4 linked regions of the Homo sapiens genome follow. The protein of the gene in region 3 binds, or shares a complex with, the protein of the main gene of each other region. Each region holds a gene or a part of one and is shown on either strand. Other genes may lie near its edges.

The links.
Region 1: LSM6 (region 3) and LSM3 share a complex: the UniProt entries of both Homo sapiens proteins name them as parts of the precatalytic spliceosome.
Region 2: LSM6 (region 3) and SNRPB share a complex: the UniProt entries of both Homo sapiens proteins name them as parts of the U4/U6-U5 tri-snRNP complex.
Region 4: LSM6 (region 3) and SART1 share a complex: the UniProt entries of both Homo sapiens proteins name them as parts of the U4/U6-U5 tri-snRNP complex.

What each region holds. Positions count from the first base shown.
Region 1 is NC_000003.12:14,174,351-14,181,833, reverse strand, and holds the start of LSM3 (U6 snRNA-associated Sm-like protein LSm3), read right to left. Parts: upstream 3,018-7,483; 5' UTR 2,974-3,017; coding exon 2,953-2,973; intron 275-2,952; coding exon 164-274; intron 1-163. Other genes in the region: XPC (DNA repair protein complementing XP-C cells), read left to right, coding at 3,266-3,368. UniProt on the Homo sapiens protein: Plays a role in pre-mRNA splicing as component of the U4/U6-U5 tri-snRNP complex that is involved in spliceosome assembly, and as component of the precatalytic spliceosome (spliceosome B complex).
Region 2 is NC_000020.11:2,467,790-2,475,740, reverse strand, and holds the start of SNRPB (small nuclear ribonucleoprotein-associated proteins B and B'), read left to right. Parts: upstream 1-4,951; 5' UTR 4,952-5,050; coding exon 5,051-5,053; intron 5,054-7,951. UniProt on the Homo sapiens protein: Plays a role in pre-mRNA splicing as a core component of the spliceosomal U1, U2, U4 and U5 small nuclear ribonucleoproteins (snRNPs), the building blocks of the spliceosome.
Region 3 is NC_000004.12:146,171,559-146,178,736, forward strand, and holds the start of LSM6 (U6 snRNA-associated Sm-like protein LSm6), read left to right. Parts: upstream 1-4,159; 5' UTR 4,160-4,253; exon of another isoform or gene 4,254-4,879; intron 4,880-7,178. UniProt on the Homo sapiens protein: Plays a role in pre-mRNA splicing as component of the U4/U6-U5 tri-snRNP complex that is involved in spliceosome assembly, and as component of the precatalytic spliceosome (spliceosome B complex).
Region 4 is NC_000011.10:65,971,731-65,978,752, forward strand, and holds part of SART1 (U4/U6.U5 tri-snRNP-associated protein 1), read left to right. Parts: intron 1-4,648; coding exon of another isoform or gene 4,649-4,664; coding exon 4,665-4,838; intron 4,839-4,925; coding exon 4,926-5,036; intron 5,037-5,283; coding exon 5,284-5,371; intron 5,372-5,832; coding exon 5,833-5,923; intron 5,924-6,033; coding exon 6,034-6,169; intron 6,170-6,869; coding exon 6,870-6,959; intron 6,960-7,022. UniProt on the Homo sapiens protein: Plays a role in mRNA splicing as a component of the U4/U6-U5 tri-snRNP, one of the building blocks of the spliceosome. May also bind to DNA.

The sequences.
Region 1 (7,483 bases), on a different chromosome or scaffold from region 3:
AAATGTGAATACATGCCGCTTTATTTGGCTTATGTGATATGGGTGACTTTCCACCACCCTCTCTTCCTTCAAAATACCCTTTCACTCTGGACAGGTTTTACATTTCAAGGGAGTGGGGGTAGGAAGGAATCTGATTTCAAGGTAACTTGATAAATTTACTTACATGTAATCTGCCTCGAAGCTCTCGGTCATTTCTCATTTTCACATAAATTCGCTCATCTAGGCTGAGCCTGATAAGATCCAGGGGCTCCTCTACAGTGTTGGTAGTTTGTTGCTGATAAAAGAAACAGGATTAGTAATGTAGTACTAGAGTCAGAGTAGTGCTTAAATCACTGCTATGCTGTGTGACCATGGGCAAGTTATTTAACCTTTTTCTGCCTCAGTCTCCTAATCTGTAAAATGGAGATAATAGTGTCTACCTAATACTGTTTTTGTGAGGCTTAAGTGATATACATGAAGGCTTAGAACAGAGCTTTTCACATAATACGTGCTATATAAATGTAGGTTAAAACACACATACATGAGAAGTTACACAGCAAAATAATCATGACTATACTTTGTTCCCTCAAAATCCAAACTGCCTGACCCAATTTCAGGGCATAGGGTCTCAGGGACTTTAGCTTTATCTCAAATATTATGTAATCATTGGAAAAACACTCACTTAATGCCTACCATACACTAGTCAGAATGCCAAATAGAGGTGTAGGTTTATGGGAAGATTATGAATTCAGCACAGGTTGAGTTTAGGCTGCCAACTGGTGAATAAGATAAATATATTTAGTAGCCAGTATAGAACACTGGTTGAAAGCACTGGCTTAGCCGGGCATGGTGGCACATGCCTGTAGTCCCAGCTACTCCAAGGGCTGAGGTGGGAGGATTGCTTGAGCCTGGCGAGGTGGAGGTTGCAGTGAGCCAAGATCGTGCCACTGCACTCCAGCTTGGGCAACAGAGTGAGACTCTTGTCTTTTTTTTTTTTAAAAAAAAAAAAAAAAAAAAAAAAAAAAAAAAAAAAGGCAAGCAAGCACTGGCTTTGGAGTCAGGCAGTCCGGGTTCAACTCCTGGCTGTGACCTGACATTTATGAACTGAGATTAAAAATCATGCCATCTGTAATTCTCAGATTCTTCATTTGTAATTGAGAAAGCCACAACCTTCTTTCTGGGTTCTTATGAGGATTAAACTAGTTAATGCATTTAAAAACAGTGCCAGGAAAACAGAAAATATTAATATTTAGAAATGGTTCCTATTGGCCGGGCGTGGTGGCTCACGCTTGAATCCCAGCACTTTGGGCGGCTGAGAAAGGCAGATCACCTGAGGTTAGGAGTTTGAGACCAGCCTGGCCAACATGGTGAAACCCCATCTCTACGAAAAATACAAAAATTAGCCAGGTGTGGCGGCACGCACCTGTAGTCCCAGCTACTTGGGAGGCTGAGACAGGAGAATCACTTGAACCCAGGAGGCAGAGGTTGCAGTGAGCTGAGATCACGCCACTGCACTCCAGCCTGGGCGATAGAGTGAGACTCCATCCAAAAAAAAGAAAAGAATAGAAAAAAAAAGGAAAAGAAAAGATTCCTATTAATATTATATTATTACAGAACTGCTGGAAACATTGGTTTTAGAGGTCAGGGCTAGGATGACTTGGGGTCACCCACATGGAAGGGATGGTTGCAGCCGCTAAGAGTTAGAAAGATTATTCAAGGAGAGCTTCTTCAGTAAGTACACAAGGCCAGTGGAGGAAGGTAACTGAATTGGTAACAGGCTCTGAAGATTCAAAAGGCCTGATGAGAGAAAAAAATAACCTAACTCAACTGGTCCCTATGTCCCTCAGTTCAACAAGTGTTTGTTAAAGGATCAGATAACCAACTGTTAGATTACAATGATAGAGAAGTCACAATCCCCACCCTCAAGGAGCTCATTCTACTGTGGAGAGGCATACAAATAATTATAATACTGTAAGAATATGCACATGAAAAAGCCCTACTGCTACCTAAGCCTCTGTCTGGGATGCCCACTGTCTGCTCTTTTCATCCTGTAGCTTTAAATATTGGCTTCTCAAAGAGGCTTCCTCTGATCATCTAACTCATTCACTCAAATATTTTTTGAGTGTTTCCAGCACTGTTCTAAACCCCAAAGACAAAAGAATGAACAAAACAAAATCCCTGCTCTTATGGCATTTACATTCTAGTGGGGAGAGATTCACATTAAACAAAGATGCATACATTTAATATGAAAAAATAACTCTCTATGAAGAAAAATGAGGCAGGGTAACCAGAGTAGCGGGAGTGCTATTTGGGCAGAAGTCCTCTCTGAGGAGGTCAGATTTCAGTAGAAAGTTTAAGTTGTGGCATGATCTCCAAAGATATTTGAGGAAGAAAAAGACCAGGTGAAAAAGCTTCTAGGACCATCTGTTATTCTGCATACCAGTTCCTTGTTTCCTTCACAGCACATCACAGTTCCTGGAAGTCTTACATATTTATATTTACTTTTATCTGTTCTCCTCGCAAATATAAGCTCCAAGTAATGGCAAGGATCTCTTATATGTCGATGTCAGTGTCCCTGGCCCTTAGAACAGTGCCTAACCATACAAAGCTGATGTTCACTCTATCTGCTGAATGAATAAATAATTGTTGCGCTCACTAATGATAACAACTCCTAACTTTATTACCTGGCTTTCTATTGGAATCCTGACAGCTCCATGAGGTAGCTAAGGATAATAATCTACAGATTTAAAAAAATGAAGCGAAGAGTGTGAGAATAGTCATCAGGTGGGCTTCTAACAGGAAAAGGTCTCAGGGCCTACGGCAAAATTCGGAGGGGGGGTTACGGAAAGGACAGGGTGGATTAGGCCATGGTGACTTGGAGAGAGGAGGCACGACTGGCCATTTTTCCTGAGTCTGGAAAAAGCAGCCTAGTACAAGAAGCTCCTTCGAGCGACCTCCTTAAAATACACTTACCTGGTCTACGTCGTCCGCCATGTTTCAAACCCTGCGCCCTTTCCCGCCTCTCGCGAGAACACAAGAGCAACGTCAATCTCCGGAAACGTGAGGATACAATACACCGGAAATAGAGAGAAACCTGTTGTGCTCTTTCCTGCTTCCCGCAGTTTTTTAGTGGCCACGGGTATGGGGTGGAGCTTCCTTTAGGGGCGTGACTAGGCCTCCAACGAAGGGGCGTGGCCAAGCGCACCGCCTCGGGGCGGGGCCGGCGTTCTAGCGCATCGCGGCCGGGTGCGTCACTCGCGAAGTGGAATTTGCCCAGACAAGCAACATGGCTCGGAAACGCGCGGCCGGCGGGGAGCCGCGGGGACGCGAACTGCGCAGCCAGAAATCCAAGGCCAAGAGCAAGGCCCGGCGTGAGGAGGAGGAGGAGGGTGAGAGCGAGGCCCAGCGGGCTTCGCGGGAGACGCCGCCGGTGGGCGGAGGAGGCCCAGAGGCAGGGCGGGAGTCCAGACGCGGAGGCCTGGTGGAGGTTGCTGCGCGCGTTCCGCGCCGTGGGGGCAGCCCGGCAGGCTGCGGCCGGCCCTCCCCGCTGTCCCCGCGTCTTTGTCCTGCGCACCCAGAGCGGTTTCCCGCGAGCTTCGCCCGATCCAAGCTCCTGCGTAGCTTTTTTCCCGCTCCCCGTTGTCCAGAGGATACAGATGTTCAGGGTTGAACTCGGAGAAGGCAGTTATTTGTGTCCCAGGAAGACAGACGGACGGACCAGGACGTAGAGTGATGCAGTGTGCTGACTCCCGAATGATAACTTCAGCTGAGTCTCACCCAGAGTTCCACAGTGGGATCCCACCTGACTTCCCCTCATGGATATTTGATAGGCTTCTTACATTTGTCATGGGCAATGCAGAACTCATGGTTTTCCTCTTTAAATCTATGCTTTCCTCCGTTTTTCCAGTCTCAATACTTGTTATAAAGCAAAGCCCACCTTTTTCTTATGTCCACACATCCAGTCCGTCAGCAAGTCCAGTCAGTTCAGCCTCAAGAGTGTATTTCAAATTTGTCCACTTCTCTTCATTTCCATGACCACAGCCCCTGTCCAAGTCATCATCACCTTTCAGTTGAGTGACTGCAGTTTCCTCTTTACTGGCCTCCCAGCTCTGCATCCAGCAACCCAAATAATCTTAAAAAAAAAAAAAATCATGCCCTGCTCCTGCTTTAAACTCCCCTTGGTTTTCCATTGCTCTTAGCTTAAAATCCAGTTGTTTTATCCTGGCCTACAAGATACTACATGTTTTGGCTCTTGCTACCTCTCCTGTTTCTCTTACCACTTGTTTCCTTGCCAGATACCCTCCTTATTGGCCTCCTTTCTCTTCCTCAAATATGCCAAGTTATTCCTTGAGTCTTTTCCTTTGATGTTCCTTCTGCCTAGAGTGAACCCCCCATGGCTTTTACCAGGGCTGATTTTTTCTATTTCTTCAAAACTCAAGTTAGACATTCCTTGAGCAAACTAAGGTGGTCCTTCCCAGATACCCCGCGGATACTAAAACCTGTGATGCTCAAGTACCTTATATCAAATGGCCTAGTGTTTCCATGTAACCTATGCACATCCTCCGACATACTTTAAATCATCTCTAGATCACTAATAATACCTAATACAATGTGGATACTATGGAAATAGTTGTCATGCTGTATTTTTTAAATTTGTATTTTTTTTCCCGAAATATATTCATCTGTGGTTGGTTGAATCTGTGGATGCAGGGCCCGTGGATTGGTAGGGCTAAATGCTAAATAAATATTTTATTTATTTTTTATTTTTTTCGAGACAGTGTCTCACTCTGTCGCTGAGGCTGGAGTGCAGTGGCGTGACCTCCGCCTCCTAGGTTCAAGTGATTCTCCTGCCTCAGCCTCCCGAGTAGCTGGTGTTACAGGTGCCTGACACCATGTCCGGCTAATTTTTGTATTTTTGTATAGATGGGGTTTCGCCATGTTGGCCAGGCTGGTCTCAAACTCCTGACCTCAGGTGATCCGTTTGCCTCGGCCTCCCGAAGTGTTGGGATTACAGGCATGAGCCACTGCGCCCGGCTAGTAAATATTTTAAATAATTGCAAAATGCAGGCTGTAGAAGGAATTTCTGGGTCTCCTGAAAAAACTGGGTAGATTAGACTAGGTAACCGGCAAAGGCTATCACACTAGATTCTGTTTCTATACCGGTTATAAATTCATCATCCATTAGGAAATAGTGAAATGGTAATAATTCGTAAACTTAGGAGGTGATTTACCTCATATGTAATATTACGAGTTCCATTTTATTCACTCATTTACTCATTCAAATAACATCTTTTGAGTATCTACTATGTGCTGTACATGAATGAGGTGACATGAGAGATAAACATATCTTGGAGGATCATAGAGTAGTGTTGACATGACATTTACATGTAAAACATTCAAGGCAAAGTGTGCTAAATATTGTGGAAGAAGGTACAAGGCTTTGTAGCTTCCAAAGGATTAATCAAGTTTGACTGGCGTGATCGGGGAACGCTCTCTGAAGTAGTTTGATCTGTGATTTAAAGGATGGTTGGTATTTTAGCAAGGGGTCACAAAAAGGGGCCGGTATTCTAGTCAGAATGTAATTTGGATATATGGCAATTAAAAATTTACGGTTTTAATCTGATGGAAATGCTACCTGTATTCTTCCCAGCTCAACACTTCACCTCGGTTCCAGCTTGGTAGAGCTTCAATTCTTAGTTTTATGCACTTGGGTGAATTATTTTGGACAAATGTTTTAGCCCTTCTGAATTTCCTCTGTGAAATGTAATAACTGCCTTGCGGGGTGGCTGTGAGTTTTCAGTGGGATAGCATATAAAGCCAAGAGCTTTAGCTTTACCCATGTTAGGTAAATTAGTTGGGCTAGCTGGTGTCATTCAGCCTAAACGGAGGTAAAGATGCACCCAAGTTTATTCTGCTAGCCAGAGGAGCTAGCAGTCAGTTCCCAAGGCAGCTTCCAGGATCTGCAGAGTTACAACCTTTGTTGTGGTTTGGTGGTTTTGTGGGGAAGCATAGACTTAGCAAGTATGGTTTGGGCTGCAGATGACAATAATTTGGTGACTGTCAGTGTAGTTGCTAACACTGTAATAGTGTAGGTTTTAATAGCACCCCTGTACATGCAAATGAAGGTGATACTTGGCTGCTTTTGACAAATAGGAGAAAAGAAAACAGGCTTCCACATGATTTCCTTTGTGTTACTAAAGCACCTCTGGTTTCTTTTCATTTCTTCTCTGTGTTAACACCTTCAGTGATATCCATTAATTCCTTCAACAGCTGTTTATTGAGCGCCTACTATTTTCACACACTGTTCCAGGTACTAGGATAATATTGAACAAGACAGATGAGGCACCTGCTCTCATGATTATAATCTGGGGGGAGGGGTACTTAGAGCAGATAACAAGTTAAAAAAAAACGGATTCACATGATGATAAGAGCTATCACCCTGTGCTAAGACTGCTGTGATAAAACTTATTTGGGTACATAGCAGAAAATGCTTCTATAGATGAAAAGAAAAACCCTCAAACTTATATGGGGCTGGGGGAGAGGCAGCTAAATGGGAATCAGTGTCAGGGAAGGCCTTTGTAAGGAGGTGGCATTTTGAGGCATTTAGTGTAATTTTGAGCCATTCATAGGAAGTTCTGGGGAAAAGAGTTCTAGGCAGAGAGAACAGTGTGTTTAAACACTCTTAGGAGGGAATGAACTTGGCCAGTTGGCTGGACACAGCGAGCGAGGGGCTGGGTAGGAGAAGTGAGCAAGGGCCTGAGCTTGGATACCAAGCTAAGGAGTTGGAATTTTATTCTGAGTGCTATGAGTTGCTGCTGGAAGGTTTACTCCGGTGTTCTTATTAAATCCCAGTAGATGGGCAAGCAGACCACAGTGGTAATTCCTGCCCTACTGAAAGAACACTGAACTCAAGGAGTCTGGTTAGGCATATTAGATAACTCAAGATTTTGGAGAGTCCTGGAAAAGAGTCTCTAGATGCTTAGGGACCAAAAAATAGCAGAGAACAGAAAGTCACCCATATTTCTGCCATCCAGAAATAGCCACCATGAAATAGTGGTCTGTTTCCTTCTAGTCTGTTTTTTATATAGCAGAAAGCATACTGTAAAATCAACTTTGCATGAGTAACATTACATCATATATCGTTTTTCTTTATCTTAAAGGATGACTCAATTATATTTTGTTGTGTGGCTCTGCCATAAGTTACTTAACAATTATCTCATGGTTGGACATTCAGATTATTGTTAGATGCTTTTGAATACTATGAACATCCTTTTGATTCAGAGTTTTTGTGTTTCCTTTATCCCCCTTTCCCTTTTAACTCCTCTACCTTTCTCTTCAAACGGAAATAAAAGCTGTGCTTTTTAACCAACTAGAAAAGTTTGTGATGCCTCTGAAGTATCCTCCTACGTGCATTTTTTTAGATTAGTAGAAATTGAAGTGTTTAGCATCTTTGCCTATTATTAGAGGGCTAACTACCATTGTAAGATCCAGAAATCTTGATTTT
Region 2 (7,951 bases), on a different chromosome or scaffold from region 3:
ATTATAGGCACCCGCCACCACAGCCGGCTAATTTTTGTATTTTTAGAGATGGGGTTTCACCATGTTGCCAGGCTGGCCTTGAACTCCTGACCTCAGGTGATCCGCCTGCCTCAGCCTCCCAAAGTGCTGGGATTAAAGGCATGAGCCACCATCCCTGGCAAAATAATTCTTTAATTTAAATTACTGTATGGTTTCTGTCTCCCTGTCGAACGTAGATTGATACAAGTGTGAAGGTATATGTGTGTGTTTTTAAAATGAGGGAAAAGACATGAATTTTGACTGCATATATTTGGTGAGCCCAGAGATAAGCCAAATAAATAATGCAAGTCAAAACTATTAATTATGAATACTCAGCTGGGGCTGTGACCCTGAATCTAGACACAGAAATCTAATGGTCTACATCAGAGGTTGGCAAACTACAGCCTAAATGCCAATCCTTGCTGATCACATGTTTTTGTGTGGCCTTGAGCCACACAAAATGTAAATGGTCTTTACATTTACATTTACACAAAATGTAAATGGTCTTTACATTTTAAATGGTCGCAAAGAATTTAAAGGATAATAATATTTTGTGACATCTATTTGTATCCATAAATAACATTTTATTGGAACCCAGCCACACTCATTTGCTAGGTATTGAGTATAGCTGCTTCCATGGTACATGGTAAAGTTGAGTAATTGCAACAGAGACCAAATGGCTCGATAGCCCTAAAATGCTCTCTGCCCTTAACAAAAAAAATATTGGAAACTAACCAGTCTTATACATATTTTAAAAAAGTTTGCCCGCCCCTGATCTAGACTGAAACTTGGGACCATTTTATCAAGTAAATACCAGATGAATTGCCTGTTTAATCCCCGGCTCTGAATTCATGACCTCTTTTCCCTTATTTGTAGATTGGCAAACTAATTGAGTTGCAAGGCATCTAGAATAGCCAAAACAACCTTGAAAAAGAAAAAGGAGGAGGATTCACACTTTTTCTGACTTCATATAGATCAAAGGAATAGAATTGGAAGTCCAGAAATAAAACCATGTGTCAATGGTCAAATGATTTTCCACTAGGGTGCCAAGATTATTCAGTGGGGGAAAGAAGAGTCTTTTTAACAAATGATGCTGAGCTAACTGTATATCTACTTAGAAAAGAATACAGTTTGACCCTACCTTATACCATATATAAAATATGAACTAAAAATATATCAAAAATCTAAATGTAAGAGCTAAAACTATAAAACTATTAGAAGAAAACAAAGGGGTAAATCTTCATAATCTTAGATTTGGCAGAAAAGATTTTTCTTATTGCACCAAAAACATGAGCAACAACAACAACAAAAAGATAAATTAGACTTCATCCAAATTAAAAAACTTTTGTACAGGATATTACCAAGAAAGTGAAAAGGCCAGGCATGGTGGCTCATGCCCGTAATCCCAGCAGTTTGGGAGGCTGAAGTGGGTGGATTGCTTGAATCCAGCTTGGGCAACGTGGTGAAACCCTGTCTCTACAAAAAAAAAAAAAAATAACAAAAATTAGCCACCGTGGTGGCATGCATCTGTAGTCCCAGCTACTCGGAAGGCTGAGGTGGGAGAATCGCTTGAGCATTGGAGGTCAGGCTGCAGTGAGCTGTGATCGCACCACTGCACTGCAGCCTGGGTGATGGGGTGAGACTCTGTCTCAAAAAAAAAAAAAAAAAAAAAAACTCACAGAATGGGAGAAAACCTGTATAAATCATATATCTGACAAGGAACTTGTATCTGTAATGTAGAAAGAATTCTTACAACTCAATAATAAAAGTCAAATGGTCCAATTAAAAAATGAGAAAAGGATCTGAATGGGCATTTCTCCAAGGATGATATATAAATGGCCAACAAGCACATGAAAAGATGTTCAACATCATTAGTCATGAGGGAAATGCAAATCAAAACCACGATGAAATTGATAGCACTTCACATTAAGATGGCTTGAATCAAAAAGTCAGATAATAACAAATATGGGTGAAGATGTGGAGAAATCAGAACCCTCATACGCCACTTGTGGGAATGTATCATGGTGAAGCCACTTTGGAAAACAGTCTGGCAGTTCTTCAAATGGTTAATCAGAATTATCATATGACTCAGAAATTCCACTCCTATCTGGATACCAAAGAGGAATGAAAGCATGTCCACGTGAAGACTTGTACACGATGTTTACAGCAGCATTATTTATAACAGCCAAAAGGTGGAAGCAATCCAAATGTTCGTCATTTGATGAACTGATAAAATATGGTAGTTCCCTCCTTATCTGAGGAGGTTATATTCCAAGATCACCAGTGGATTCATGGAACGGCAGATACTACCAAACCCTATATATACTATTTTCTCTTATACATACATAGCTATGATAAAGTTTAATTTATAAATTAGGTACAGTAAGAGATTAACAATACTAATAGAACAGTTATAAAAATATACTGTAATAAAAGTTATATGAATGTGGTCTCAAAATATCTTGTACTGTACTCACCTATTTTTATACTGCAGTTGATTGTGGGTAACTGAAACCACAGAAAGTGAAAGATGGATATGGGGGGACTACTGTACATCCATACAATGGAATGTTATTTGGCCATAAAAAGGAATGGAGTATTGATACGTGTCATGACATGGATGAGCCTTAAAAACATTGTGCTAAGTGAAAGAAGGTAGTCACAAAAGACCACGTATTATTATATGATTCCCTTTATATACATTTTCTAGAATGTCCTTCATAATATTCATCCTTCTGATAGACCTGAGTGTAGGTTCAGGTCTCTGCTCACATACCACTCCTCAGAGAAGTTTCCCCTGACCACCTAGCCAAAACTGTACCCTATCCCTCTCAGTTCCTCTGCCTTTATTTATTTTTTTCATATCACTCTAATGTTACATTGCATACTTATTTATTTGGTTTACTATGTCTTTCTCAGTAGGATGTAAAGCTCCGTGAGGGAAAGGACTCTATCCCAATAATGGTGCATGGCCTTAGTAGATGCTAAATAAAAATGATTTTAAATGCATGCATGAATGAAGTGTTAGGCAGCTGGGTAAGGTGGGGGCAAATGAACAGCTGAGGAGCCAGACGGACCTATATTCCCACTCTGACTCCGCCACTTTGGGCAACATAATTCATTTCTATGAGGCTTCGCCTCTTCATCTACAGGTGACAGGAAACGGGACAACAGAACACACCCTTTAGAGATGGTGTGAAGATGGCAAAGCACCAAGGTGGAAGCTCTCCTTGCTGGGTTTGAGGAACAGCAAGGAGATTAGTGTGACTGGAGAAGGATGAATGAGGGCAATGTTGACGGAGATGAATGAGGTTGGAGAGGAGCGCAGAGCTAGATTTTATTCCATGTGTGCTGGGAAGTTTTTGGTAAGTGGAGACCAGGACATGACATCATCTGATATCCCAGTACGTTTAGAAGGATCCCTCTGGCTGCCGTGAGAACAAGAAAGGAAGCAAAGAGACAAGTTACGGGCTCGTTCAATGATCCAAGACAGAGACGATGGTGGCTATGACTAGAGTGGACGCAATGGAGTGGGTGACAACAATCATATTCAAGATAATTTGAAGGTGGGGGCCACAGGATTTGCTGATGAATTTGATTATTCGATGGCAGAGAAAGAGAAGAATGAAATATGCTTCAAATTTGTCATTTTCTTTTTTTTCTTTTTTAATCCAAGAAACTTCGGGGATGGGGAACACTGGTGAAGTGGTTTTAGAAACAGTGAATAGAATCAAGAATTCAGTTTTCAACATGTTAAATTTGGTATACCTATTAGACATTCACATCACGCTGGCAGCTGGATATAAAGGGCCAAGAGTTAAATGAAGAGACCAAGGTTAGAGGAACAAACTTGAAAGCCTTGGGTGTATATGCTGTATTTAAAAGTCATAGGAAGGGCCCAGTGTGATGGTTCACGCCTGTAATTCCAGCACTTTGGGAGGCCAAAGTGGGTGGATCAGGAGTTCGAGACCAGGAGTTGAGGTCAGGAGTTCGAGACCAGCCTGGCCAACATGGCAAAACCCCGTCTCTACTAAAAATACAAAAATTAGCCGAGTGTGGTGGCACAGGCCTGTATTCCCAGCTACTCGGGAGGCTGAGGCAGGAGAATCGCTTGAACCGGGGAGGCAGAGGTTGCAGTGAGCCGAGATTGTGCCACTGCACTCCAGCCTTGGTGACAGACTGAGACTCTGTCTCAAAAGAAAAAAAAAAGTCATAGAAAAAAAATAAATGTCATACGACTGGATGCGATTATCAGCAAATATGGGTAGAGCCCTTATTTTGTGCTAAAGTGTTCTAGGCACTACAGCAATGAGTAATACACAAAGAGAAAAATTCACACCCTTATGGATCTTACATTCTAATGGGGAGGGGATAATAAAATAACTAACAAAAATATACAGCGTGTTAGATAGCAAGAGGGAAATACAGGAGAGATGAGGATGAGGTGGGTGGGAAGGTTACAGGATGGCTAGGGAAATCCTCACTGGGAAAATGTTATTTAAGCTTAAACCTTGAAAGAGGTGAGGGCAGCAGCCTTCTGGTATACCTTGGGGACTACCATTCCAGGCAGAGGCGAAAGCAAATGCAGAGGGGCTGAAAAAGGAGCACGTCCAGCCAGTGGAGGGAAAAGCAAGAATAGTGACTGTAGAGGAGAGAGCCGGGGAGGGTGATGGGAAATGAGGACCGAGAGGTTAATGGGAAAGGCGGGGTGAAGAGAAATGAGTGTGACACAGAGCAGCTCTCAGTACGGATTTAAGCTAGGAAGGTGTCCAAACAGGAACTTAAGGCTCTCCTTACGTCAAAGCCGGATGTTAACGCCCAGTCCCCAGGCCCCGCCTCTGCTCGGCAGAAGCTCCGCTCCGGGGCCGGAACTCCAGGGCTAGTGAGCTGGACCGGAAGTAGGTTTCTACCCGACCGCATTTTACGTGGTGCTGCATTTCCGGTAGCGGCGGCGGGAAATCGGCTGTGGGAGAGAGGCTAGGCCTCTGAGGAGGCGAATCCGGCGGGTATCAGAGCCATCAGAACCGCCACCATGGTAAGGAGGGCACAGGCTGGCGGCGCGGGAGCTTCCGAGTCTGTTGTGGAGTGGGAACCGCGACTGATCGGGGAGGAAGCCGTGGGTTGGAGCCACTTAGGGCGGTGAAGGCCTGGGCCGAGGCCGCTCGGTCTGGGCGGGAAAGACCAGGACCTTGGCGGTTCGGCTAGGCATGGGGTCGAGGAAAAGGTTGGAACCGGTGTCGGAGGCCGAGGTCGCTCGGCAGGGGCGAGGGTAGAACCGCGGCTCTCGACACCGCTGTAGCCATAATTCCTGGGACCCAGTAGGCACTAAGTTAACTTTTGCCGAATAAATATATGTCCCGGGCTTCGGAGCAGGCACTGGAGCCGCAGGGGGACCCGGTAAAAGGCTCAGACTTGCGGAAGTTTGTGAGTCTGAGAAAGAGTTGGCGGAAGTGGGTGGAAGGGGCTCGTGGACCACGCTAGAGTCTCGCTAGGTCTGCTGGATGGAGAGGAGGGCGGAGGAGGGTGATGGCGAATGGAGGAAGAGCTCCACTCAGTTGCTCATCACGTTTCCGTGTTTGCCTGTGCCTGACTTCTCAGGCGCTGGGGCTACTCTCTGAAATATGTTTGCTTCCTTCACAGAGGTAGCTGGGGACACATAATATAATTCAGTGTGGTCATTCGGTAAAAGTAACGGCAGCGGGGCGGGGTAAGAATGTTTTCTCAAATAGATGGTTCCTGAGCAGATTCCTAAAAGATTAGCAAGAATGTTCCCGGCGAAAATGGGGGGAATATTACAGACCCGGAGAACTGAAGGAACAAAGGCTGAAGGGTAACAAGATTTAAAAAGTTACTGGATTTTTCTGCGTTTGTTGACTGAGAAAAAGTTGCTGGAGGAGAAAGGAAGAAAGAAGGGAAGACGGGAAGAATTGGCAGGAGGCTAGTTACTAAAGGCCTTGCATGTTAATTTTACCTCAGTGGTGGTGAGGCATGTCATTGAAGGATTTAATTTAATTTATTTTTATTTTTTTGAGACGGAGTTTTGCTTTTGTTGCCCAGGCTGGAGTGCGGTGGATCGATCAGGGTTCACTGCAAACTCCACCTCCCGGGTTCAAGCGATTCTCCTGCCTCAGCCTCCCAAGTAGCTGGGATTGTAGGTACCCGCCACCACACTTGGCTAATTTTTTGTATTTTTAGTAGAGACGGGGTTTCACCATGTTGGCCAGACTGGTCTCGAACTCCTGACCTCAGTTAATCCACCCACCTTGGCCTCCCAAAGTGCTGGGATTACAGCCGTGAGCCACCACACCCTGCCCACTGAAGGATTTTAACCAGCAAAATGACATAAGCTTAGTGGTGTTTAGAAAGATTGCTCTAGCTCTGGCATGTATATTCGATGGGACTGGAAGCAGGGAAACCTGGTAGGATATTGTTTGGATAACTGGTTAGAATAGGCGCTGGATTCATTTTGTCTAGGTTCCAACACAGCTTCCCAGCTGTGAAACTGGGCAAGTTACTTAACCTCTCCTAGCCTCAGTGACCTCATCTGTAAAATAGGGATAATAATGGGCCCAATTTTGGGGATTAAATGAGATGTACTGTGCTTATCACAGTGCCAGATACACAGTGAGCACCCAGTAAACATTAGTTGAGCTGGACCAGTGAATGTTGCCCTAAAGGTTCAGATCCCTTGTGGTTAGAAGCTGGTTAAAATGGTCATTGAATGGAAACTGAACCACCTAACCTGAGGGAGGCTCGCAGTATCTTTGTGTGGAGTCAAGTTTTGTTTTTGTTTTTTTGAGATGGAGTCTTTCCCTGTCACCCAGGCTGGAGTGCAGTGGCATGATCTCAGTTCACTGCAGCCTCCACCTCCCAGGTTCAAGCGATTCTCCCATCTCAGTCTCCCGAGTAGCTGGGATTACAGGCACCTGCCACCACGTGTGGCTAATTTTTGTAATTTTAGTAGAGACGGGGCTTCGCCATGTTAGCCAGGCTGGTCTTGAACTCCTGACCTAAGGTGTTCTGCCCACCTCGGCCTCCCAAAATGCCGGGATTGCAGGAGTGAGCCACTGAGCCCGGCCATGGAGTCAAGGTTTTGATCTGCATATTTGCAGGTTCAGAACTTTGTTGTCTGAGCTCACAGAGATGAACAGATGTCCATAGAAGGCACTTGGTGGGTTAGGACTTGGGTATAGCAGTCAGACTGATGGGAGGATGATATACAGATCAAATGCCAGGTGATTTGTTTATAGAGAGAAATACAACTGCTTAGGGTACCTGACAGTTCACAAAGTGATACCTATATAGTCACTTCTTTATTTTAGCACATTGGAACCCAGGTTATGAAAGCAGAAATGTTTGTTGGGTTAAAGACCATTATATGTCCAAACTGGTTAGCACCCTAACCATCAGAAGTTTCCCTCTGCCAAATATAGTCTTGGAGGCACACTAACAAATTCTTGATATGTGGATTTCATTTTTCACCTTGAAGCTGATCTCCTTCCTGATAACAAGCTTCTTGTTGATTAGATTTTTAGTTTCAGCCCTATTCTAGCTCTTCCTTTACTCAGTGTTTTTAATGAGATTTGAATGTTCCATAGCACTTGAGTCACATATCTATAATCTGCACACTGGTAGATGGCTCTAGTATGTATGCATTGGATTATTTTGGGGACACCCTATACTCTCATCCCTGCAACTGACACGACAAGGAGAAAGGCAATTATAATATGAGAAAGACCGATTTCAAGGGAAGAGAGAATAGCAGATTACTGGGTAGAGGTCAGGGCTAAAACAGGGTGGCATGGGAGAATTCCTAGGAAAAGGCTGTGGGTGGGAGACTGAGCTAAGAATCTGTTGAGAAAGTTGGACACATGGACAAGAACGCCATGGGAAGTTTTGGGGAGGGCCAGAGGTGCTTGGGTCCAAAAGAGCA
Region 3 (7,178 bases):
GGCCAGCACATAGCAGATGTATGAAATTTGGAGTGTTAGACATAAACTTTTATTACCAAATTATAAATAATTTCTCCCACTTATAATGTTCACCTTTCAAGTTCATCTTGATTAAAATACAAGGGCAGCTTCACACCGATTTCACTAAATTTTACAGCTGAGAGAGGTTTTCTAGAGTTCACGGTGGAGTATAAAGCATCACAGCATTTGGGAGATTCTCCTTCCAGGAGCTCAGACTCTGATCCTATCTCTTTTAAAATTCAAGTCATGCCAAAATGATGGCTGATGAAGTCCGAACATTATTTAAACATCTCACATGTTACATCTGAAACCAAGCGCCCATGATGTAGAATATATCACTTCCTTGGGTAAGCAAAACGACATACTACTTTTTCTGAGAAATTTGCCCACCAGTCAATGAGCTTGTATCACTTCTTAGAAGGTATTCAACAACCAGAGAGTGTCTGTCTGTTTCCTTATTTTCTTTTTTCCCCTCCCTCCCTCTTTCTTTTCCTTCTTTCTTTTTCTTTCTTTCTTTCTTTCTTTCTTTCTTTCTTTCTTTCTTTCTTTCTTTCTTTCTTTCTTTCTTCTTTCTTTCTTTCTTCCTTCTTTCTTTCTTTCTTTCTTTCTTTCTTTCTTTTTTCCTTCTTCTTTCTTTCTTTCTCTCTTTCTTTCTTCATTTAAGAAACAGTCTCGCTCTATCATCCAGACTGGAGTGCAGTGGCATGATCTCATCTCACTGCAACCTTAGCCTGTCGGGTTCAAGAGATTCTCATGCCTAGCCTCCCAGGTAGCTGGGATTACAGGCATGTGCCACTACACCCAGCTAATTTTTTAATTTTAAGTAGAGACGGGATTCAACATCTTGGCCAGGCTGGTCTTGAACTCCTGACTTCAAGTGATCCGCCAACCTTGGCCTCCTAAAGTGCTGGGATTACAGGTGTGAGCCACTGCCCCCGGCCTCTCTTCATTTTCTATAACAAATAATTTTCATATCCCATGATTAAAGGCAGATAATGGTGGCCCCAAGTATCCAAAACTAGCACATCACAGCTTATGAGCTCCTATTGTACAGTCTGAAGGTCCAGGAAAGGTTCAGGTCCATGCCAGCACTTCATACCAGTTAATGCATTGCTCCAACAAGACCAGCCAGTATTCTTGGAAGCTTAACATCCATGTTACATATTAAAATCTGCTTTGGAGAGTGTTGGTCAATCCAATTACATGTTTGTATTTATCATCATCATCATCATCATCAACAACAACCACAACAACATCACAATACATTCATCTACATGTTCACAGGGCTGTTGGGTGTTTAATAAGCTAGACATGAGACCATCTTTTATGAATATGAAACATTGAAGGACATAGTTATTTAAAGGCATATGTACTATAGAACTGTAGAAGGGACAAACAATGAAGTGGCAAGAGTTCTCTTAGCATTTATATATCTGCATTTGTCTATTTTAAGCATAATAGCTTCAAGAGAATGAAAAGACAAGCCATAAACTGGGAGAAAATATTTGTAAAACACATATCTGATAAAGAACTATTATTCAAAATATACAAAGGACTCTTAAAACTCAACAAAAAGAAAGAACAAACTGATTCAAAATTGGGCCAAAGACCTGAACAACCAAAGATATACATATGGCAAATAAGTATATAGAAAGATCCTCCATATCATATGTCACTAGGGAATTACAACTTTAAACAACTATGAGATAGTCACTAAGCAGCTATTAGACTAGTCAAAATCCAAAGGACTGGAAGCACCAAATGCCCATGAGGATGTGGAACAATGGAAACTCTCATTCACTCCTAGTGGGAATGCAAAATGGTACAGCCACATTGTAAGACAGTTTGGCAGTTTCTTACAAAACTAAACATACCCTTGCTATATGATCTAGCAGTCATACTCCTTGATATTTGCCCAAATAAGCTGAAAACTTATTTCTATACAAAAACCTGCATACACATATTCATAGCAGCTTTATTCATAACTTCCCAAACTTGGAAGCAACCAAGATGTCCTTCTGTAGGTAAATGGATAAATAAACTGTGGTACATCCAAATAATGGAATATTATTCAGAACTTAAAAGAAATGAGTTGTCAAGCCATGAAAAGGCGCAGAGGGGTCTTAAATGCATATTTCTAAGTGAAAGAAGCCAGTCTGAACAGGCTACACAGTGGGGTGGTGCAGTGTATGCACCACTAACTGTGTACGGTATGATTCCAAATATATGATATTGTGGAAAAAGGCAAAACTTTGGAGACAGAAAAAAGATCAGCGGTTGCCAGTGGGGAGGAAGGGATAAATAGGTGGAGCACAGAGAATTTTTAGGGCAGTGAAACTATTCTGTATGATACTGTAATTGTGGGTACATTTCATTATGCATTTGTCAAAACCTATAGAATGTGCAACACCAAGAGTGAACCCTAATGTAAACTTTGGCCTTTGGATGATAATGATGTGTCAGTGTAGGTTCATCAGTCCTAACAACTAAATGAAACTAAACTACATAAGTTAAACTAAAGCTTGCCAAAATATTTTTATGACTTTAAGGCTCCTTAATAAATTAATGTTTACATTCAGGGTTTTGAAGACTAGTATTCACCAAAAGTCTTGCAGTGTTTTCTTTGCATCATAAAAGATGCTGAAAGCAAAAACCTGGGAAATACGGAAAATTGCCTTGTGAGTTAGTAAAAGTCATTTATAAGCTGCTGAGGGGCTTTTGGGAACAGCCACACTTTTTATAAGCTTGTTAGCTCATGAATTAATTCAGGATGCCCACCCCGTGTGTCAAACTGGGCCCTTACCCAGCTACTCCCCTTAGAGAAGGTTGCAGCTGCTCAGCAGATGAACTAGGCCCTTAAAACTCCTCATGGCTCCCTACCCACCACACTAGTGTTAACGGCTCGATTAGGGCTCTGTAGGAAAGGGAAAGAAGTTTGAATCAAAAATTTTCTTTTTTTTTTTAATAATTTAAACAATCAGTAAGGAATGTGCAATTTGATGTCGTTTGCAAAGAAAGTTTTTAGGAACAGGGCTTTTTATCCTATTATGTTTGTTCTTTGCACGTAATTATTTGATTTAAATGGTACTTTTCTTAAAATTTTTATTTACATTGTATTTTATATTGCAAGAACTTCAAATACAGCCCTCACAATAAATCAGTAACTGTTCGGTCTTTATCCAAACTGAACTTTTATAGAAGGATATAAGGAAGTCTCTATTCTTTAACAAATCATATCCAGTTGTTTTCTGTCCCTGATATCAATCAAAAGTTCATTTCTTCTGCCTTTAACCAAAAGAAGTTTACAAGGGAGGAACTCTTTATCTTCGAAAAAAATTTTGCATCTTAGATTTTATAACACCTAATGGGGTTAAGGATCTGTGTTGAAAGATCTTATCACTCTGTGTATAGTGTTACAAATCATAAATATAATTAAAGTATAAGTTTTCAACTGATGAGAGTATATGTGGAGGGGGAAAAACGAATCAAGTCCTGGTGTAACAGTTCTCTTCTTTTTCCCTTTCAATTCCATTAATAGAAAGAGTATTGAGAATTCATGCAAAATTCCAAACCAAGTTCCCATAGTAGCACTGAAATAAGTCTGCACACCATTTCCAATAGGAACTAGTAATGTAACACAATTAATGTCATTATAATTTGGAGTTACTTGAGTGATTTTGATTATTTTTGTATCAATTAACATTGCCATGGAAACAGTCTCTTGCTAAAATGGCTTAAGTCTTCACACATTTAATCAATATCCAGAGGTAGATTTAAAGACTTGAGGTGTTTCATTTATTTATTTATTTGCTTTAAACTATTCAAGGACGTTTCTGGGTACACAATGCCGTTACTTAAACAGTAAATTCCAGTTTCCTATGACTTCAAGTTATTTTTTACACTTCTGTAAATAAATCCTGCCCAAAAGATCACTTCTAGTTTCCTGGAATTTTGTTTTTGTTTTGTATTGTATTTGTTTTGTACTCAGATTTCTGTTAGAGGAACTCCACTGCACCAATTTTGCTACTAGACAAACCAGGAATCTTGGATTTGCGCGCTTTGGTGCTGACAGGCTTTTTCGGCCCCAGCGGGCTGCCGTAGCAGAGAAGAGCACTGATTGGCTGAGGCAGAAAAGTGCCCCTGCCTCGGCGCTTTCGGTTTTGGCTGGGATCATCCGCGGCGGCCGGGCTCGTGGGGCGCCTGGAGTGAGGGTTCTGGTTCCCGCCGGCGAGGTGAGCCGCACCGCTGCGCGGGCCGACGACGGGGCCGGGCGCAGCCCCAGGTTCGGTGCCCCAGTGTTCAGTCGCGCTGTGGAGCGGCGGCTGCAGCGGCCCTAGGCCGGGCGAGGCAGCCCCGGAAAGGGCCTGCGGTGAACAGGCTGGGGCTCCGGGAAGGGACCGCTGGGTGGCGGGTCCCCGCGAAATGCCGCGTCCAAGCTCTCCGCGCATGGAATGGCTGGGAGAGGTCTGATGGTGGGCGCCGGGACCGCCCTCAGCGAGGCGCCTAGACTGCGCGGAGAGGAGCGGCACCGTCCCGGCTCCTACCGAGTTGGCGTCCGAGATCAATTCAGGTTGTTGAAGTTCCCCAGGGAGCCCCGACGCTAATCCCAAGATTCGGCGGGAAAGCGGATCCCGAACCCAGGCCTAGGCTTCGCCTGTCTTCCAGGAGGGCTTCAGGGAATTGCGAACCCTCTCCTACATCGGGGTGGCTGCGCCTGACCACAGGAATTAAAGGCTGGACTCGCCTGTCTTACCAAGTTGTCAGGTCGAGGAACCCGATTGTATGGTCTTAAGTCCTATCGCCCAAGGTTTTCTGTGCGTATGCGTGTCCGCACACCTGCATAGCAGGCATTTTTAAGGTGTGTAGGATTAAGATGATGCGGATTACCCTGCCCCACTGCTCTTAGTAATACGTGACTATTGTAGAAAATTGCAAACATAGAAGACTTTAGTGAAGAAAATAATATTCACTGAACCCTTTCACCTACGATCATTTTCTCTTGTATGTGCTAGCTTCTACTTGAACTAAGAGTGTACATGTTTAATCACTTAACAGTGTAGTTTTCCACTTCCATTTAAAAACTCTTCCTAAATATTATTCTAATTTTGTATCTTCTTTTGATTGTCCTATCATTGTGGGTCCCAGTTTAGGTCCCGTAAATTATTCAGTCATTTCCCGATTGTGGGACATTAGATTGTTTTTGAATTTTTACATCATCTTAGCATCCCAGATAGTGCTTTGATAAACTCTTTTCCCCCTATTTTTTAGATTATTTCCTTGGACTAGATTCTCAGAAGTGAAATTATCAGATTAGATGCTGTCATCTGAAAGGTCTGTTTTAGGCCTTCATACACATTGCTGCAGTGTTTTCCAAAAAAGTTTTAGAGATGTTTGGTAATTTTACTTGCTTAAATATTGTGCAGAAATCTTGAGAGGCTTGTGTTTGTGGTGTGTGTGTGTGTGTGTGTGTCACTGGCGTTAATGCGTTAGACTACCTGAATGTTAGGGCAGGAAGAGACTTAAGTGGTCATCTGGCATAACTCCCTTATATTGCAGATGAGGAACCTGGGGCCATGAGAAGTGAAATTATGAGTTATCCAAGTCACACAGCTAATTAAGTAGCAGAGCTGGGATTAGAACTCAGGTTTCCTGCCTCCCAAGTGAGTACTCTGTGCTGTATCAGGCAGTCTCTCACTGAACTGTGGCATAGTAGATACTAGAATTTAAAAATTTGTTTACATCACCTGGGTTATTCTCTCCTTTTAAAAGTGTACTAACAGATTTTAATCATCGGAGAGACCTGTAACACTGAAAAATTGGAAAGTGATCATTTTCATGGCCAAGACTAGAAATCCATTATTTAGAATGGCAACCCCTTCAAGATTTTGACAGTTGTTTTCAGGTTCCCTATATGTTAGAATAAAACACCCCTGATTAATTATAACCTACACTCCATCATTTGGTTAGAATGTAGCTTTTGGTTATCATTTGCGGTACCTTGGAGATTTCTTTAAAACTCCTCACTTTAAAACCAAAGAACAATTTTTTTTATTTTTATTTATTTTTATTTATTTTTTTATTTAGGGCTTATAGCAGAGATTGTCAACTTCCATTGACATTTTGTGCTGGGCAGTCCTTTGTTGTGGAGGGCCGTCCTGTTAGTTGTAAAATGTTTAGCAACATCCCTGGTCTCTACCCACTAGGATAGCAGTAGCACCACCTTCCTCAGTCATGACAGTTCAGTGTCCCCAGATATTTCCAAGTGTCCCTGAGCAGGGTGGGGCAGGGTTGGGGGTACTGCCCCTAGATGAGAACCATTTGCTTATAGAAATTATCTGGAGAACTTTATAAAATGTAAAATACAGTGCCTTTACCTGAGTAGACTTCGGGAAAATCTGCATTTTAACAAGCATCTCTAGATTTGGAAACAGCTGGTTCTTGAATGACACAAACAGTTGTTTTCTCAGTTTTTGGTGCTCATAATAGAGATTACTTGGTTAGTATTTGTTGAAGTACATGCATGATCCTACTGGTCACTGTATCCATAGTTTGGGCTGATGGGGGCTGGACAGGGATTTTGCTTGGCACTGGCCTTGAATGTCTCTTCCACAGACTTGGGTAGTGTGCTTAGGTACCAGGGACACCAAGTGAGTAAGATATTTTCCCTGTCCCCAAGAAGCTTTAAATTCGCACGGGAGACCAGTCAGCAAATGGAAAAATTACGAAACAGCCTGATAAGGGCCATGACTGAGAGTGGAAAGAGGTGCTCTGAGTGGACTCACTTCGCCTTTGGGAGAGAGGGAGAGAAGTAGCCCCTGCTGCCGAGGAAGGAGGGATTGGTATGAAGCCTTCAAAAGACAGCGAGGAACTCCACTGTGTCCGAAGGGAGGATTTAGAGAGCTGTTCTTCTGCCTATCTGATCGCCTCCTCAGACACTGATCTATTAGTCTAGTGCTGCAATTACTTGGATTGTAATGTTTCCTTGCAATTTTTGCTTTTCAAATTCTTTTCACCCTAAACTGTAAATACGCCAGGAGTAGGTAAAAACTTACAGGTAAACATTGCCAAGAAATAAGGATTTTCATGTCTTCTGCTCAGTGGCATAACTCAAATCACATGAGATAGATTTCTTTGCATCTGTCCATTGTATTTCTCTG
Region 4 (7,022 bases), on a different chromosome or scaffold from region 3:
GGGTTTCACAAAGGAGAGGTTCTGTTGATTTCCCCCTGAGTCTAAACTGGGTAATGAGGGACATAACAGAGAATGATGGGTGTGAGGACAGGGCCTGGAGTCGTGATGTGGTTGAAGAATTACTGGATTGAAGTTAATACAGTCAATGAGCTAGAAAGAAAGGCTGGAGAGAACAGAAAGGATCCTTGGAATTGAGGGGTTGTTTTGTTTTGTGATAGTGTCTCACTTTGTCACCCAGGCTGGGGTGCAGTGACTCTATCTCAGCTCACTGCAATTTCCACCTCCTAAAGGTGCTCTGTCCACATACAGTCATTGGGGGTTAGGGCTTCCCGATATGAATTTAGGGGTTACACAATTCCTAGATAGGACAATATATTGTCAAGATGTCCATCTCATGTAGTTCATTTCTAGGTTAAATGCAACTCCAGTAAAAATCCCAATAGGGATTATTTTGGAAGCTGGAAAATGATTCTGAAATTGGATAAAGTAGGGGCATTGTGGCAGTGTGGGATTGCATAAGGATAGACTAACAGAACAGAGAGACCAGACAGCGGGGCCCCGAGACAGAATCGTGTCCCAGTGGGAAGAGTCGCTCGTCAGTGCAGCGAGTGGGCGTGGGACAGTCAGTTATCTATTTGGGGAAAAAATGAAATTGGGTTTATACCTCACACCTTGCAGATAGATTAAGAACTTCAAAGTAAAAACTTCACATTTCGGAATCAAATTAAGGAAATTACATTTATAACTTTTTGGTAGAAAAGATTTTTTAAGTTGTCAGCATAGCCAAGGCAGGAGAATTGCTTGAGGCCAGGAATTTGAGACCAGCCTGGGGCAACACAGCAAGACCACCCCCCCTACCAACCCCATCTCTAAAAATGTTTTTTTAATTAGCTGGGCATGGTAGCATGTGTCTGAAGCCTCAGCTACGCCGGAGGCTAAGGCAGGAGGATTGCTTGAATCTAGGAGTTCGAGGTTATAGTCAGCTATGATAGACTATAGCTGACTATATCACAGATAGCTATGATAGCCTGGGTGATAGAACAAGATCCTGTCTCAAAAAAAAAAAAAAACCAAGAAACCCACAGGTTCCATGGGTGAGTTTCTTCAAGAAACCATGAAGAAAAAAGTGAACGTGTAACTACATAGAAATTGAGAACGTGGCCGGGCGCGATGGCTCACGCCTGTAATCCCAGCACTTTGGGAGGCCAAGGCGGGCGGATCACGAGGTCAGGAGATGAGACCATCCTGGTCAACACAGTGAAACCCTGTCTCTACTAAAAAAAATACAAAAAAATTAACCAGACGTGGTGGCGGGCACCTGTAGTCCCAGCTACTAGGGAGGCTGAGGCAGGAGAATGGTGTGAACCCAGGAGGCGGAGCTTGCAGTGAGCCGAGATCGCACCACTGCACTCCAGCCTGGGTGACAGAGCAAGACTCCGTCTCAAAAAAAAAGAAATTGAGAACGTAAGTTTTTTGTTTTTTGTTTTTTTACAAAACATACCATGAAGAATATAAAAAGGCAGACCAAAAAGAGAAGATATTTGCCCATATATACCACCAAGAATGGGTTGGTGTCAAGAGTATACAAACAGACAAAACAAATCAACACAACAGGAAAATAGGCGAAAGATGTAGATAAGACAGGCAGTTCACAGAAGAGAAAGCCTAACTCACCAGGAAAATACCCGGTGAATCCAGTTTCAGGAGGGATCACAGAAAGGTGAACCAAAACAGTGAGGCACCTGCCACCTGCCAACAATTCCGCAGAAAGGTCCAAGCCTGACAGTAGCGAGTAGGAGTAAAGGACATGGAGCGGCCAGAGTCCTCAGCCACGCTACTCACAGCCATGGGCAGGAGTCTAATCAGATGAGAGGGAATGTGTGCGTGCCCGGGGCCCACCCCACACCTCTCCCGAGTGTGCCCATGTGCACCAGGAGACATTGTCAGTGGGCCTGCAGCCGCAGTACTTGGGACAAAAAAAGTCCATCCTCAGTGGGCTAGAGAGCCAGATCAAGGAGCATCCAGCTCACGGGCTGTGATTCCATAGTGGAAACTGATGAGCTACAGCCGTGTGCATCAGGGTTACTCTCAGGGGCACAGATTTTTTTACAAAACAAATCACAGAAGAGTCATACAGTGTGACTCAGGTTATAGAATAATTAATACACAACAAAATAACTGTTCAGGGGCAGGTCCTTATGTGCTAAAGCCATGAAGACAAGCCGGTGAGTCATGACCATGGATGGGGAGGGGACACTCAAGTCTGGGCAGGGCATTAGTGATGCTGCCCCAGCCCCAGGGAGAGGGACATGGGTGTGTGTTTAGTTAATGTTTTAAAAACTATATCAGCCGCTGGGTGCGGTGGCTCACACCTGTAATATCAGCACTTTGGGAGGCCTAGGCAGGTGGATCACAAGATCAGGAGATTGAGACCATCCTGGCTAACATGGTGAAACCCCCTCTCTACTAAAAAAAAAAAAAAAAAAAAAAAAAATTAGCCGAGCATGGTGGTGCATGCCTGTAATCCCAGCTACTCAGGAGGCTGAGGCAGGAGAATCACTTGAACCCGAGAGGTGGAGGTTGCAGTGAGCCAAGATCGTGCCACTTCACTCCAGCCTGGCCAACAGTGAGACTCTGTCTCAAAAAAAAAAAAAAAAAAAACCATATCAGCCGGGTGTGGTGGTTCACACCTATAGTCCCAGCACTTTGGGAGGCTGAGGTGAGTGGATCACTTGAAGCTGGTTTTGGGACCAGCCTGGGCAACATGGTGAAACCCTGTCTCTACTAAAAATACAAAAATTAGCTGGTTGTGGAGGCATGCACCTGTAGTCCCAGCTACTTAGGAGGCTGAGGGAGGAGGATCACTTGAACCTGGGAGGTGGAGGTTGCAGTGAGCCTATATCGCCCCATTGCACTCCAGCATGGGTGATAGAGTGAGATGGTCTCAATAAATAAGTAGCATATGATGCATTAGATATACCTCGTTTTATGTTTACAATGTTCATTAAAAAATAAGTGTTCCTGGCCAGGCGCGGTGGCTCACGTCTGTAACCCCAACACTTTGGGAGGCCAAGGCAGGCAAATCACGAGGTCAGGAGATGGAGACCATCCAGGCTAGTACGGTGAAACCCCATCTCTACTGAAAAAAAATACAAAAAAATTAGCTGGGCGTGGTGGCGGGCGCCTGTAGTCCCAGCTACTCGGGAGGCTGAGGCAGGAGAATGCTGTGAACCCAGGAGGCGGAGCTTGCAGTGAGCTGAGATCGCGCCACTGCACTCCAGCCTGGGCGACAAAGTGAGACTCTGTCTCAAAAAGAAATAAAAATTAAAAGACAAACAAACAAACAAATGTTCCTGGATGTCCTGGAAGACTTTTTTTTTTTTTTTTTTTGGAGACAGGGTATTGCTCTGTTGCCCAGGCTTGAGTGCAGTGGCAAGATCACGGCTCACCATAGCCTCGGCCTCCAGGCTCAAGCAATCCACCCACCCCAGCCTCCCAAGTAGCTGAGACTACAGGCATACACCACCATGCCTGGTTGATCTTTGTGTTTTTTGTAGAGACTGTGCTTCACCTTATTGTCCAGGCTGGTCTCGAACTCCTGGGCTCAAGTGATCCTCCAGCCTCGGCCTCCCAAAGTGCTAGGATTATAGATGTGAGCAACCACCCGGCCCCTGGAAGAATTTTTTTTTTTTTTTTTTTTCGAGACGGGGTTTCACTCTTGCCCACTCTTTTGAGTGCAGTGGTGTGATCTTGGCAGCCTTGATCTCCCAAGCTCAAGCAGTACTCCCACCTCAGCCTCCCCAGTAGCTGGGACTATGGGCGTGTGTGACCACAATGTCTAATTTTTATGTTTTTTGTAGAGATGGGATTTGGGTATGTTGCCCAGGCTGGTCTCGATCTCCGGAACTCAAGCAGTCCACCCGCCTCAGAAGATTTTTTTAAAAAAATGAATGTAATATAAAATGAAAGAGGGGTGCAGAAGTGGACATAGTGACTCGAACCTTCACTGAGGAGTGAGGACTTTGCTGTCTGGGCTGCAGGGTTGAGGGAGAAGTTTTTTAAAGAGGGGAGATGGTAATCATTGTGTGTGGCTGGGCATCTGCGACAGGAGGGAAAGCAGAGGGTGCTGGTGCCCGTGTGGGGGTCGCTGGATTCAGTGCTGGCAGCATGAGTGAGTTCTCTTCCCATGTCACGGAACCTGCTTTCTTGGTGAAGCAGGAAGCGAGAAGCTGGGCTGTGGGAAGTCAAAAGCGTGGGCCACCTCACCACCCTGCGGGTTCTAGAAGTGCTGTCTAGAGTCCTGAAACCGGAGTTTGTCGGGGGAGGGGCAGGTGGCAGGAGGGAGCCTGGAGGAAGGAGTTTGAGGCTGAGGTAGTGTGTGAGGGGCTTTGGAGGGGGATTGGCACAGGCCTGGTCAGGAAGGCCCTGTAGGATGTTGGGTATTCATTCAAAGGGCATCCAAACCCATTGATGGGTTTGGAGCAGAAGAGTGACCCCAGTGAAAGAGGTGCAGAGTGGAGTTAGGCGGCAGATAGCAGCTGGGCCTGCATGGGCTGTGGGCGTGGCCTGTCTGGCTGCTGCCAGGGAGGACCCTTAGGTTCCTGGGTCTCAATGGCATCACCCCAGAAACTGCTGGGTTTGCCCACAGCCGCTCCCTCCCCCAGGTGGTGGAGATTGTGAAGAAGCTGGAGTCTCGCCAGCGGGGCTGGGAGGAGGATGAGGATCCCGAGCGGAAGGGGGCCATCGTGTTCAACGCCACGTCCGAGTTCTGCCGCACCTTGGGGGAGATCCCCACCTACGGGCTGGCTGGCAATCGCGAGGAGCAGGAGGAGCTCATGGTGCGTCTGGGGCGGCCCCGCCCTCTGCTTCCCTCGGCTGGGTGGGCTGGCTGGGGCCTGGGCCGACCCTGGTCTTTTGTGCCCCAGGACTTTGAACGGGATGAGGAGCGCTCAGCCAACGGTGGCTCCGAATCTGACGGGGAGGAGAACATCGGCTGGAGCACGGTGAACCTGGACGAGGAGAAGCAGCAGCAGGATGTGAGGGCCGCGCCGCTGGGGGGTGGGCGTTTGGGGGTGCTCAAGCTGGAGATGAGCACCGGGCTCGGTGTCCAGAGCCTCAGCCTCCTCATCCAGAGTGGGCTCTGCAGACCTCCCAGGGCGATCTGAGGAGTAAATGAGGAAATTAAATGTTGTGGAGGGCTGGTGCCTGGCAGGTGGTGACCAGTGGGTGGGGCTGAGAAGAGCCGGTATGGCCTGCTAACCACCCCCGCCACGTGTCCCGTAGTTCTCTGCTTCCTCCACCACCATCCTGGACGAGGAACCGATCGTGAATAGGGGGCTGGCAGCTGCCCTGCTCCTGTGTCAGAACAAAGGTAGGGAGCTCAGGGCAGCCATGACTTGGGTGGGCTTGGGTGCTGCTGCAGGTGCAGGCAGGGCCCCCTCCGGTCCCCTCTGCTGCCCCTTTCTCTCAGTCCCAATGCTGGAGCCAGCTGTCCGGCCCAGAGCCACTCCTTCCCCTCCACTGTGGCATCTGTCCGTCTGCTCTGCCTTTGAGGCTCCACACCTGCTTGGGGAAGGAGAGGGGAGTTGAAACTGTTCCAGCTGTGGCACAGAGAGCCCTGGTGTTAGGACCCCAGCTCTGCCATTTCCCTGGCCAGTGACCCTTGGCAAGGGGCTCATTTCTGCATCTTTGCTTTGCCTGTAGAACAGGCCTGATGGCTTTCCAGAGGCAAGGAAAGGGAGGTGCCCCCACAGGGCCTGCTCTGCCTTCTCAGGCGGCCCTGGAGCTGTGGCTCTCGAGGGGTTGGGAGTCTCACAACCCCTCCATCCCTAGGGCTGCTGGAGACCACAGTGCAGAAGGTGGCCCGGGTGAAGGCCCCCAACAAGTCGCTGCCCTCAGCCGTGTACTGCATCGAGGATAAGATGTGAGTGTGGTGGGGCCTGTGCAGGGCTGAGGGGCCTGTGCCAGCTTGGAGCTTCGGGACCACAGCAGGCGGCAGCTCCTCACACTAAGGCCTCCTCTGTCTCGGGCCAGGGCCATCGATGACAAGTACAGCCGGAGGGAGGAATACCGAGGCTTCACACAGGACTTCAAGGAGAAGGACGGCTACAAACCCGACGTTAAGATCGAATACGTGGATGAGACGGGCCGGAAACTCACACCCAAGGAGGTGAGCAGGGCCTTTTGCAGGCGGAGGCCCGGCCTGCCACAGGGAGGCCAAGCCCAGGGCCATGCAATGCCCCGGGCCATGCAATGCCCCAGGGTCCTGGCTCCACCAGCCTCTGGCTGGGGGCCTGGTGAATGCCACGGATGGGGAGGGGGCCCTCAGGGCTGAGGAAGGCTGTGCCTCAGTTTGTCTCTAGTGGGCACAGCAGTCTCTTTGCAAGCCTGGCAGGAGGGTCAGACAGGCACTCGGGACCTCTGCCCTCCTGTCCTCACCTGCGTGAGCCCTTCACTGGCTTTCCTGGCCCGCAGGGCCATTCCAGCGTCCAGGCCCTTCCAGCACTCTCGTAGGCCGCCCGACCGTCCTGCCCTACCACTCAGCTGCCCCCTTGCTCTCTGGGGTTTGTCTCCCTGCAGCCCCAGCCCCAGCCCCAGCGTCCAGGCCCAGCCCCTGCGTGGCAGGTCTCCAGGTTCCCCATGCTCTGCCCCCATGGCAGCGCATCCACTAGCCAAGCTGGTCTCCCGGCCTCTGCTGGGGCCCTGCAGGGTGCCAGCGTCTGTGCTCTTTTCCCATCCCCTTCCCACTGCACCCCAGGCCTGGCATTGGGGTCAATCAACACCCGCCCTGTTATTATACACCTTGTGGGCACAGGTGGCTCCGGCCCCACCCAGGGCCCTGCATCTCCTCTCATGCCCCGCGTCCCCAGGCTTTCCGGCAGCTGTCGCACCGCTTCCATGGCAAGGGCTCAGGCAAGATGAAGACAGAGCGGCGGATGAAGAAGCTGGACGAGGAGGCGGTGGGTGCCCTTGGGGATGTGGGGGGCCCTGTGCCTGCCGGGGCAGGGGTGGCTGGTGTGTGG